2 separate regions of the Homo sapiens genome follow, and region 2 is linked to region 1. Evidence: fine-mapped expression QTL. Tissue or cell type: regulatory T cells. Region 1 holds a variant in brackets; the other region holds the start of a gene. All regions are shown on one strand. Distances are between the middles of the regions.

What was found. PIP is the estimated chance that this variant, and not a neighbour inherited with it, causes the effect.
Region 2: it holds the start of SYDE2, and the variant in region 1 is fine-mapped to the expression of SYDE2 in regulatory T cells (Schmiedel 2018, PIP 0.92).

What each region holds. Positions count from the first base shown.
Region 1 is chr1:84,273,297-84,278,448 of GRCh38, forward strand. LOC124904808 (small nucleolar RNA SNORA2/SNORA34 family) reads left to right here and starts at 4,025; the gene lies at 4,025-4,161. The variant TG/T (reference allele first, on the strand shown) is at 2,205.
Region 2 is chr1:85,198,377-85,203,528 of GRCh38, forward strand. SYDE2 (synapse defective Rho GTPase homolog 2) reads right to left here and starts at 2,640. Exons shown (of 7, transcript NM_032184.2): 1 at 1,876-2,640. The coding sequence starts at 2,620. It overlaps LOC124904207 (a long non-coding RNA gene), which reads right to left and starts at 1,866. Exons shown (of 2, transcript XR_007066199.1): 1 at 1,775-1,866; 2 at 1-1,663. RefSeq lists an enhancer at 1,755-2,366 and a silencer at 2,379-3,528.

The DNA.
Region 1 (5,152 bases):
GGATGTACCACAGTTTATTTATCCATTCACCTACCGAAGGACATCTCAGTTGCTTCCAAGTGTTAGCAATTTTGAATAAAGCTGCCATAAACATCCATATGCGTGTTTATGTGTAGACATAATACCAAAAGAGCATGATTGCTGGATTATATAGTAAGAGAATGTTTATTTTGTAAGAAACTACAAAACTATCTTCCAAAGTGGCTGTATAATTTGCATTCCCACCAGCAATGAATGAGAGTTGCTGTTGCTCCACATCCTTACCACCAATTGGTGTTGTCAGTGTTCCAGATTTGGACCAGTCTAATATGTATGTAGTGGTACTTCATTGTTGCTTTAATTTGCATTGCCCTGATGACATATGATATGGAACATCTCTTCATATGCTTATTTGCCATGTGCATATCTTCTTTAGTAAGGTGTCTGTTAAGATCTTTGGCCCATTTTTTTAATTGGGTTGTTTGTTTTCTTATTGCTGAGTTTTAAGAGGTTTTCTTTTGTTTTTTGTTTTTTGTTTTTTTTGTATTTTGGAAAACAGTCCATTATCAGAAGTGTCTTTTGCAAATATTTTCTCCCAGTCTTTGGATTATCTTCTCATTATCTTGACATTGTCTTTTGTAAAGCAGAAGTTTTTTAATTTTAGTGAAGTCTGGTTTATCAATTATTTCTTTCATGGATTATGTCTTTGGTGTTGTATCTAAAGAGTCATCACTATACCCATACTCATCTAGATTTTCTCCTGTCTCATTACATTCTAGGAGTGTTACAGTTTTACATTTTACATTTAGGTCTGCGATCCATTTTGAGTTAATTTCTGTGAAGAAAGTAAGGGTCGTGTCTTACTCATTTTTTGTGTGTATGTGATGTCCAGTTGTTCTGGGATCATTTGTTGAAGACTCTTTGTTCCATTGTATTGCCTTTGCTCCTTTGACATACACTATCTGCAGGGTTTATCTCTGAGCTCTCTATTCTGTTCCACTGATCTATTTGTCTATTCTTTTACCAATACCACACTGTCTAGATGACTATAGCTTTATATTAACTATTGAAGTCAGATAGTGTCAGTCCTCCAACTTTATTCTTCTTCAATGTTGTGTTGGCACTTCTGGGTCTTTTGTCTCTGCAGATGAACTTTAGAATCAACCTGTTAATCTCCACAAAATGGCTCGCTGGGATTTTAATTTTGATTACACTGAATCTATAGATCAAGTTGGCAACAGCTGACATCTTGACAACATTGAATCTTCCCATCCACGAACACGTAGTATTTTTCCATTTGTTTAGTTCCTCTTTGATATCTTTCATTAAAGTTTTTCAGTGTTTCTCACATGGATCTTGTATTTATTTTGGTAGATTTATACATATTTTATTTTGGGGAAATACTTTTTTTTATTTCAAATTTCATTTGTTCATTGCTGGTTGTCATGGATTGAATATATTATGAAGAGAAATTTAATCCCCATTGCAACAGTGCTGAGAGGTGGGATCTATAAGAGGTGATTAGGACATGAAGGGCTCTGTTCTAATGAATGGATTCATGCTTCTTGTGGGTTAGGGTTCCTAATAAAACAATGAATTTGGCTCCCCTCCCCTCCCTTTCCCTCCGCCTCCCTCCTTCCCTCCCACCTCCTCTTCCTTCCCTCCCCCCTGCCCTCTCCTTCCTTTTCCTTCTATATACATGCTCTCTTGCCCTTCTGCCTTCAACCGTGGGATGACACAACATGAAGGACCTCACCAGATGTAAGCCCCTCAACCTTGGACTTCTCAGCCTCCAGAACTGTAAGAAATAAATTTCTGTTCTTTATAAATTACCTAGTCTTGGGTATTCTGTTGTAGAAGCATAAAACAGACTAAGACACTGGTATATTGGAGAACAATTGACTTTTGTATATTAACCTAGTATTCCTCAACCTTCCTATAATTACTTATTAGCTCCAGGAGACTTTTCTGCCAATTTTTTTCAGGTTTTCTTCATAGACAATCATGTCATCTGCAAACAAAGACAGTTTTGTTATTTCCCTCCCAATCTGTAGCTTTTATTTCTTTTTTCTTTCTTGCTGTATTATCTAGAATTTTTCATCTGCTCTTCAGAAGCAGTGGAGAGAGGAAACATTTTGCCTTGCTCCTGGTTTTATGGGAAAGCTTCAAGTTTCTCATCATTAAGTATGATGTTAACTGTAGGGTGTTTGGGTTTTTTTTGTTTT[TG/T]TTTTTGTTTTTTTCAGATATTCTTTATCAAGTTGAGGAAATTTCCCTCTATTCCTAGTTTACTTAGAATTGGGTATTTCCCTTCTTCCAGGTCAGTTAGGCGTTGGTAAAACCCCTGAAGTTTAGGCTCTGGCTAAGCAGTTCCTCCTAAGAGCAGACCACGTTCAGAAGAACAGAGTGTTCTGGTGTATTTTTAAATAGTTCTTTTCCCCTTCCCCTGGCAGAAGCATGACAGGATTTTTCTCCAATATTCACTGTGGGGGTGTGGTAGAGCTTCTAAAGGTAAAACACAAAAATGTGGGGGTCTCCTAATGACTGAGTCCCCCTGGAGTTTTTGACTTGCCCACACTCAGCCTCCAGCAATTCATCAATTACAGTTAAGATTTTCCTACATGGGCACCGGTTGCTGCAGAGGTTACTACTCATGGTTTCCTGCTCACAGAGTTGTGATTCTCTGTATTCCCCTGTTGGTCTCTCCAATTTGGGGGACAGCAGTTTGCCCTATAATCTAACCTCTCTTAGAGATCTAAAAAGAGTTGTTGCAGAGTCTTACCCTCTCACCCAGGCTGGAGTGCAGTGGCACTATCATGGCTCACTGTAACTTCCAACTCCTGGGCTCAAGTGATCCTTCCACTTCAGCCTCCGAAGTTGCTGTGACTACAGGTGTGCGCCACCATACCAGGCTAATTTTTGTATTTTTTTGTAGAGATGGGGTTTCACCATGTTTCCCAGGCTTGTCTTGAACTCCTGGGCTCAAGTGATTGGAACCGCCTCAACCTCCCCAAGTGCTGGGATTACAGATGAGAGTCGCTGTGCCTGGTTTATTCAGCTTTTTACTTGTTGTTAGGGCTGAGTGACAACTTCCAAGCTTCTTACATGCCAGACTGGAACTGAAAGTTGGTGTGTTACTTTTTTAAAGTATAAATTCTGGGCCTTACCCCAGACCTACTGATTCAGTCTCAAGGGGTAGAGCCCAGGATCTTTATCTTAAGAAATCCTCACCAGTGGGCACCCATGTATTATGGCTTCTGAAGCATAATTTTATAAGAATGAAACATAACTCTGGAAACTCCTGTGAGAAGAGTAGCCTTGGCCCCAGAAACAAGGTAGAAGGGTTCCTAAGCTGTTCATTATTAAGAGAGACACCCAATCAGGGATTTATAATTTGGTAGCTCTTCATCTACTCTCAAAGGTGCACCCAATAAAATGAAGGCCCAGCACCAATATCCCAAGACCAGGCACAGGCAAGAGGAGATGGACACCAAGGTGCTGCCCTAGGTTCAAGGATGTTGTTGTTTTCCTCACCCAGGAGGAGGACCTGCATCAGAGCAGTGGGAAACTTTTCTTTCTAGACTTCCAGTTTCCACACCTGGCACGATTCTGGCTGGACCACAAGAAAGAGCTAAGGAGAGAGAGCCCAAGAATACCTGCTTATGTGACAGCTGCAGTTTAGAGGAGTGAGGTAATTAGCTTAGGATCATCCAACCAGTAGGTAGGTAGATGTGAGATGATGCAAAAGAAGATATCAGCAGGAGTGACCCTCTGTCCCTATTGCATGAAATAAGTATGCTTTGCTGTAGAAAAGAAGGAAACCAAACAAATCATTAGTACCAATCTGGAAATGGAAAGAAAGGGCATCCCCATGACACCACTGGCTCCCTGGACTGATACCTTCCAAGGTCAACCCCACATCTCTTCCTCCTACTCTTGTGAACCAATAAATTATCTTTTTTGCTTAAAGTAGTATATGAGTTGGGTTGCTATACCTTGAAGCCAGAATGTTCTAGTAAAAGTATTCCGTATGTATTAAAAAGAATGGTTGGTCCTGATTCAAGGCCAGCAGTTTGCTGAAGCTGTTGGTTTCAAGCAGGAGACTAAATAATTGTCTTTTCATGGTCTGTTGGCCATCTTATAACTTTGGAAATGTAATGTCCAATTCATTAGAAATAAACATCTGGAAAAAAAAATGGACAAATATACTGATATAGAAAATGATCACAATAATTATTAAATGAAAAAGGTCAAATTACGCAATAGTGTTTTTGGTAGTATTCTATTTGTGTATACAGTGTGTTTTGTGTGATTTTTATGTTGCCTTATTTTATTTCATCTTATTTTGTTTTTAGTAAATGACTAGAGAACAACTGGAAGAATACTTAACACACTGCTGGCAGGAGATGGGATTGGGAAATCCCCCAATTCTGAACCATTTACTGATGATGAGCATGTATTACTTTCATAATAAAATACTAAATTAAAAAAGGAAAGAGAAGAAAGTTAGTCACTGAATGTACCAGATACTTGCCTGCCCCCAACTTCCTGGTTTCCTTGTTAGGGAGAAAAGATAGTTAGAGATAGCAAACAGAACAGGTTCCATGGTTAAGCCAACCAAAACTATATTGACTGAGTCAGTAATTCAGTGAGATATGGACAGACTTAAGTATGTACAACTGAGAGAGTTTGCATCACAGGGAATTAAATGCCCAAAGTCTAACCAGTCAATAAAAATACAAAAAGGGTTAAAAAAGCAATCATTCATGTTGAATCCTCACAGTCTAGGGGTGAGGAGTGCAGAATCCTACTCAAGGTACTGAATGGAGACTTGGCATCAACTGTCTAGAATTTAGAGGGAGGCTTAGCAGGTGCTCAGAATGTGCAGCATCACCACTTCCAGTTATGTGGGCTGCAGAAAAGCCCCATTAAACAGTCACTTAAAAGGGAGATATTAAAGGAGAGGAGTGCCTGGAGAGGAAGCAAAGAGGGGTTTAGCAAGTCAATGTAAGTTAAGAAGGCTAATCCAGGCCGGGCGCAGTGGTTCACGCCTGTAATCCCAGCACTTTGGGAGACCAAGGCCGGTGGATCACCTGAGGTCTGGAGTTTGAGACCAGCCTGGCCAACATGGTGAAACCCCACCTGTACTAAAAATACAAAAAATTAGCCGGGTGTG
Region 2 (5,152 bases), 930 kb after region 1:
AATTTTTTTAAAAAGCTCTCCAAATCTATACTAGATATGTAAACACTGCACAAATTATTTTCATCTCTCCTGAAAAATGAATTAGTGGTTTAAAAGGAAGTAACATCTGAGAGTTGTTTAAACCAGAGATTATGGTAGCTTTGGCTTAGATTTCTCATAAAATATCTAAAATATTATCACATAATAATTGTTTCATTTTAATTTCTAAGTTAGCAGTTTCATTTAATTAGTTGCTTAATGCAAAAATCAAATTCATTCTTAAAGGAACTATATTTATTACTTTAAAAATCCTTGAATGTTTACTACTGAGGGCATTAAAAGCCATCACATGGTAAGTGTTTTAGCTCTGTGACAAAAGGGTGAAAAATATTTGACTATTTTTTGTTATGGCTGAAATTCAACTATGGTACCAAGAGTTAAAACTAAGCCAAAGGGGGGGAGGTAAAAATATTGTGGCAATAAAATATAATAAATGATTACAAATTACTCCTGGAAATGCATGTTTAATATGAACTTAGTATAAAGTACACCTCTCAACAAAGAATTTACATTCTATTATCCTTTTGTTCAAGTGAAATGGAATATTTAACCTTGAGAATAAAATTTGACAGGTGTGTATTAGAGCCGTATAGACAGGAAAAAACTTTGCAAGTTGGCACACACTTTGAATGAATCATTTGATTTGTCTTCATTGTTTGATAAGAAGTTTTGTGAACTTTGTTTCTCCCCACTGTTGTGTGTTTATTGGTTAAACAAAGTTAATGTGTATAAATCCAGTCCTGTAGGATTTATAATTACTACCAGAGAAACCGCCAAGTACTGTGAATACCTTTTACATTTCAGGATTTAATGTTTTCCAAATTATTCCTGACTTATAAGTCTTTATGATCACTAAAAATTTTTATATGTAAGAGTATTCAAAAGACCATGTTGTTTTGGCTCACTTTGAAGATATTATACTCCTTTCAGGAAAGATATTTTGATATTTACAACATAATTGACTGGTTTCTAGAATTGATAACCTAAACCTTCAGTGATAGTTAAAAATCATGCACATACAAAATAGGGAGCTTAATCCTATTATAAGGATCAATATACTTTTTAAAAAACTAATTTACTTCTCTTATAAATAGGATTTAAGTTTGCAAATGACTGCTTTAAAAACAAAACTACCTGAGGAACATTTTTCTTTTGATTAAAATGTTAGTGTCCTTGATTTTTCACAATAAAAAGATTACTTTGTTGAGGTTTCTTTGTCGGGGGGAGGCAGGTGGAGAGATGGTGTATGTGAAATACTACCTGACTAAAAAATTCTACTTATGGTAGGGTTTTTTTTGTTTGATTTGTTTGGGTTTTTGGTTGTGTGTATGTATGCATGTGTGTGCGTGCCTGGGAGAGGCAAAAAAAAAAAGTTGTAATGAGTAAAATGACAGTTTATGAAGCCTATAAAATCTACCTTGAATCAAATTCAAATTTACAAACTCCACAAAAGTCTACGGATTTGCCTAGAGCTACAAAGAATAAAAATCAAGACAGTGCCGCCCATCTGTAAACCTACTAAAAGTGTGTTATACTTAACCTTTACTCCTTTAGGTAATACTTAGGGAATAGACACACTGGTTTTTCGAGAAGAAATCACAACCTCAATTCTTCATGCCATTGTCTGATTAAAAAGAAAAAAAAAAGCAAAACGAGTAAATGCATTACATTAAGTAACCCCGAAATTACTTTAAGCTGCCACTTACATGACACTTACTTTCGCCCGGTAACGTACCTGTCGCAAAAACATAACTTTTTCTTGGCTCTTAAGACAGAAGCCCAGTCGGTAAACAGTAAGGCTCGCGGTGCTAGCATTTTCATCGCAAAGTATCCTACCTGTCAGCGTAATTCTTTGGTCTGGAGGCACCGACAGGACACGGTTTTCACGCACTTTCAAAGCGCCCACATTTGGGGAGGCTGCCTGCGTTCCTGTGACTTTGGGAGCCGTCCCACGGGCACGACCCTTCATTCCCAGGGACAGCAGACGCCCTTTGTACATCCACTTCTGCAGCTTCTTGACTGTCACTGCCGGCGGCCTGAGGAAGGAGGGGCCTTCCTGGCGGTCTCCTTTGCCACTGCGTATCACAGAGGACCCCGCTGGATCCCTGAAAGGGCTTCCCGAGGAGCAGCCGTGGTCCTTGCAGCCTGGAGGCTGGAGGCCGGTGGGTGCAGCCGCCCGGGCGCGGTCCCCACTCCAGCCGTCCATCCTGCCTCCACGTGGCGGGGGCTCGTCCCAGTCCCGGTGCGCGCCGCACCTGATCCAGCTGTCGCTCGGCCACCGCTGGAAGGGAGGCGGCTTGGCACCCACCCGGAGGCTCTCGAGGCTTCTGCTGCAGGACGGCCGCATCCGAGGAGTCCGCAGCTGGCCTCCCCGCGGCTCCCTCTGAGGCGACCGGGGCGGGGACACCTGCTGCCGAGGGCGTCCGCCGCCTCCCCGCTCCCCGTCCCGGGGGCAGGCTCGGCGGTACGCGGCGCCGCGGGAAGGCGGCTGGCCCGGAGCCCGGGCTCCCGCGGGGAAGCTGTGATCCGCCAAGCCCCTGCCGCCCCGCCGCGCGCCCGAGTCAGGGGGCAGGTCGTGCATGGCCTGGATCAGCAGATAATAGGCCTCTCGCAACTGGGTCCGCAGCCTGCCTGTCTCCAGGCGGCCGCCCTCCGCCCCCAGGGAGGAGCCCGCCGCTGGGGGAGGCGGGGGACGCCGTTCCGCCTCCGCCCCCTCAGGCTCGGGCGCAGACTGCGAGCCGCCGGGCAGGTTTTCGTAGTAGTCGGCGTCGTAGTCGTCTTCGTCCTTGTCGTCTTCCTCCTCCTCTCCGCTGTCCTCGGAGCCCTCCGGGGAGTGCGGAGGGGCGTGAGCGAGCCCATGGCTCTGGGGGGCGGCCTCCTGCCCGCCGCGCGGCCGAGGCCCGAGCGCCCCCAACTGCTCCGGGTGCCCTCCGGGGACCCGCGCCCCGGGACCCCACGCCTCAGGTGACGGCGAGGGCTGCTGTAGGCTCCGCCCGTGTCCCCCGGCGTGCTCACGTGGGAGGGTGTCTGCGGCACCCCAGGCGTCTCCCGCGGCTGCCGAAGAGGCCGCCACCGCAGCTGCGGCTGCCGCCCGGAGCCCTAGCCCCCCGGTGCCGCGGGGACCCCGCCTTCCCCGGAGCCTGGACAGCGTCCTCCTCAGAGGGTCCGCCATCCCCTCTGCCTTAGCCGCGAGGCTCACCCCCGCCAGGGGGAGAGGTCGGAGCCCCGCTGGGGAGAAAACCGCGCTCGCGGAGGCGGAGGCGGAGGCGGCGGCGGCTCCCCATGACCGGCGCTGGCCCTCGCCGGCTCCTCACATACTTGGCATAACTCTGCCGCGGGAAGGCGTGGGGGAGGGCGGTGGCGCCGCAACGCGCATGCCCCGGAGCCCCGGGCCGCGACGGGGCGCGCGGGCCGGGGGCGGCAGAGGTGGGTTCTCGGGGTGGGCGAGTGGTGCAGGTGGAGGCGGAGGGCGCGGGCCGGTAGGTTGAGTAGTAGGTCGGCTGAAGCTGACCGACGGAAGCAGGGGTGGGCGCACAGAGCGCGAAGGGTGCGGGGAGAGTTGAGGCAGGGGAAAGAAGAACGAGCAGGAACGTGAGTTTGGGCTGGTGGCTGCAAAGTTTTGGTTAGGGAGCCCGAGAAAGGGAAAGTGCCCTCCTGGCTGTCACCCCAGCACCTTCACCGCCACCGCTGCACGAGGTGTGTCTTAGGCACAGCAAGTCCTAGCTTGAGAGAAAACAAAGATTGTTTTGACGGACAAAGTACGAGTGCAGGTGTATCTCGGTGCATGTGTTCTAGAAATGTATCAATCATTTTAATCGCCCAGAGAGCTAGCTAGCTAAAAGAAATTTGCAGCGATTCCTTTTCTATAAGAGTTCTTTTATCAAAAACAAAACAAAACCCACCCACCGATGTCTCTTTTAAGTCTGTTTTTCCTTCTTTATTTCAGTTAATGCATGCTAACAAAATTATTACATCAGCCAAAACTTGTAAAATGGAGCCACAAATATTATGTCCCTCATCACCCTACCTACAAGATTATCATACAGGTTTGCAGCTTTCTAATATAAAAAAGTTAACACTTCATTTTAATTTAAATAGTGAGTTGAGAAGCAATTGAATTGAAGTTGAGACACAGTGTAATCTAGAAATACCGGCTGTCTCCCAAAAACGTTAAATTCCAGGTTCTGGGCAGCAGTTGCAAACTCAAGTACCCCTCGTTGCCAGAGATTAATTGATTCAGTGACTGATAAGAATCAGTCGTGCTATCATCCCTGATTTGAGTTACTTTTTTTAGTGTTTACATAGTAGAAAGGGCCTTTTTCTGAGTTACTCATAAATATGCTGACACCTAGCACAGTGCGTGCACTTAGTAGATACTCAAATACTTAAGAAAATATTTGTTGAATAAATAAATGTTTGCATTACTGAATAAAATGAAATAATTTTGCCCTAATTTACCTTATTTGCAACTGCAGTATATTTTCCTATGTCAGTTGTTTTCTTGTTGTCCAGTGGCTCCAATCTCTGAATGTGCTTTGACTATACTACCTTTATTAGTACCTAGTCTCTGCTTTCTGGAATAATTGTTACCTGCATCTGAGATTTGCAGATAAGAGAGAATATTTGCAGAAATCTTACCCACTCTCTAAAACTCTGCTCTAGGCCAGGCGGGGTGGCTCATGCCTGTAATCTTAGCACTTTGAGAGGCTGAGATGGGCAGATTGCTTGAGCCCAGGAGTTCAAGACCAGCCTGGACAACATGGCACAACCTGGTCTCTACGAGGAACAAAAACAAACAAAAAAAAAAACACAAAAAAAATTGGCTAGATGTGGTGGTGTGCACCTGTAGTCCTAGCTACTCTAGAGGCCGCGGTGGGAGGATCACTTGAGCCTGTGAGGCTGAAGCTGCAATGAACCGAGATCATGACACTTCATTCCAACCTGGATGACTGAGGGAGATTCTGTCTCAAAATAATAAGAATAAAATAATAAAACTCAGCTCAACTGCCTTCTTGTTTATGAAGTCATCTCTGATCTCCCAGACGGGAACTCAAGTTCTAAACTTCAATATTACTTTATTCCCACCCATAGTATAGTTACTGTTTTTTGTTTT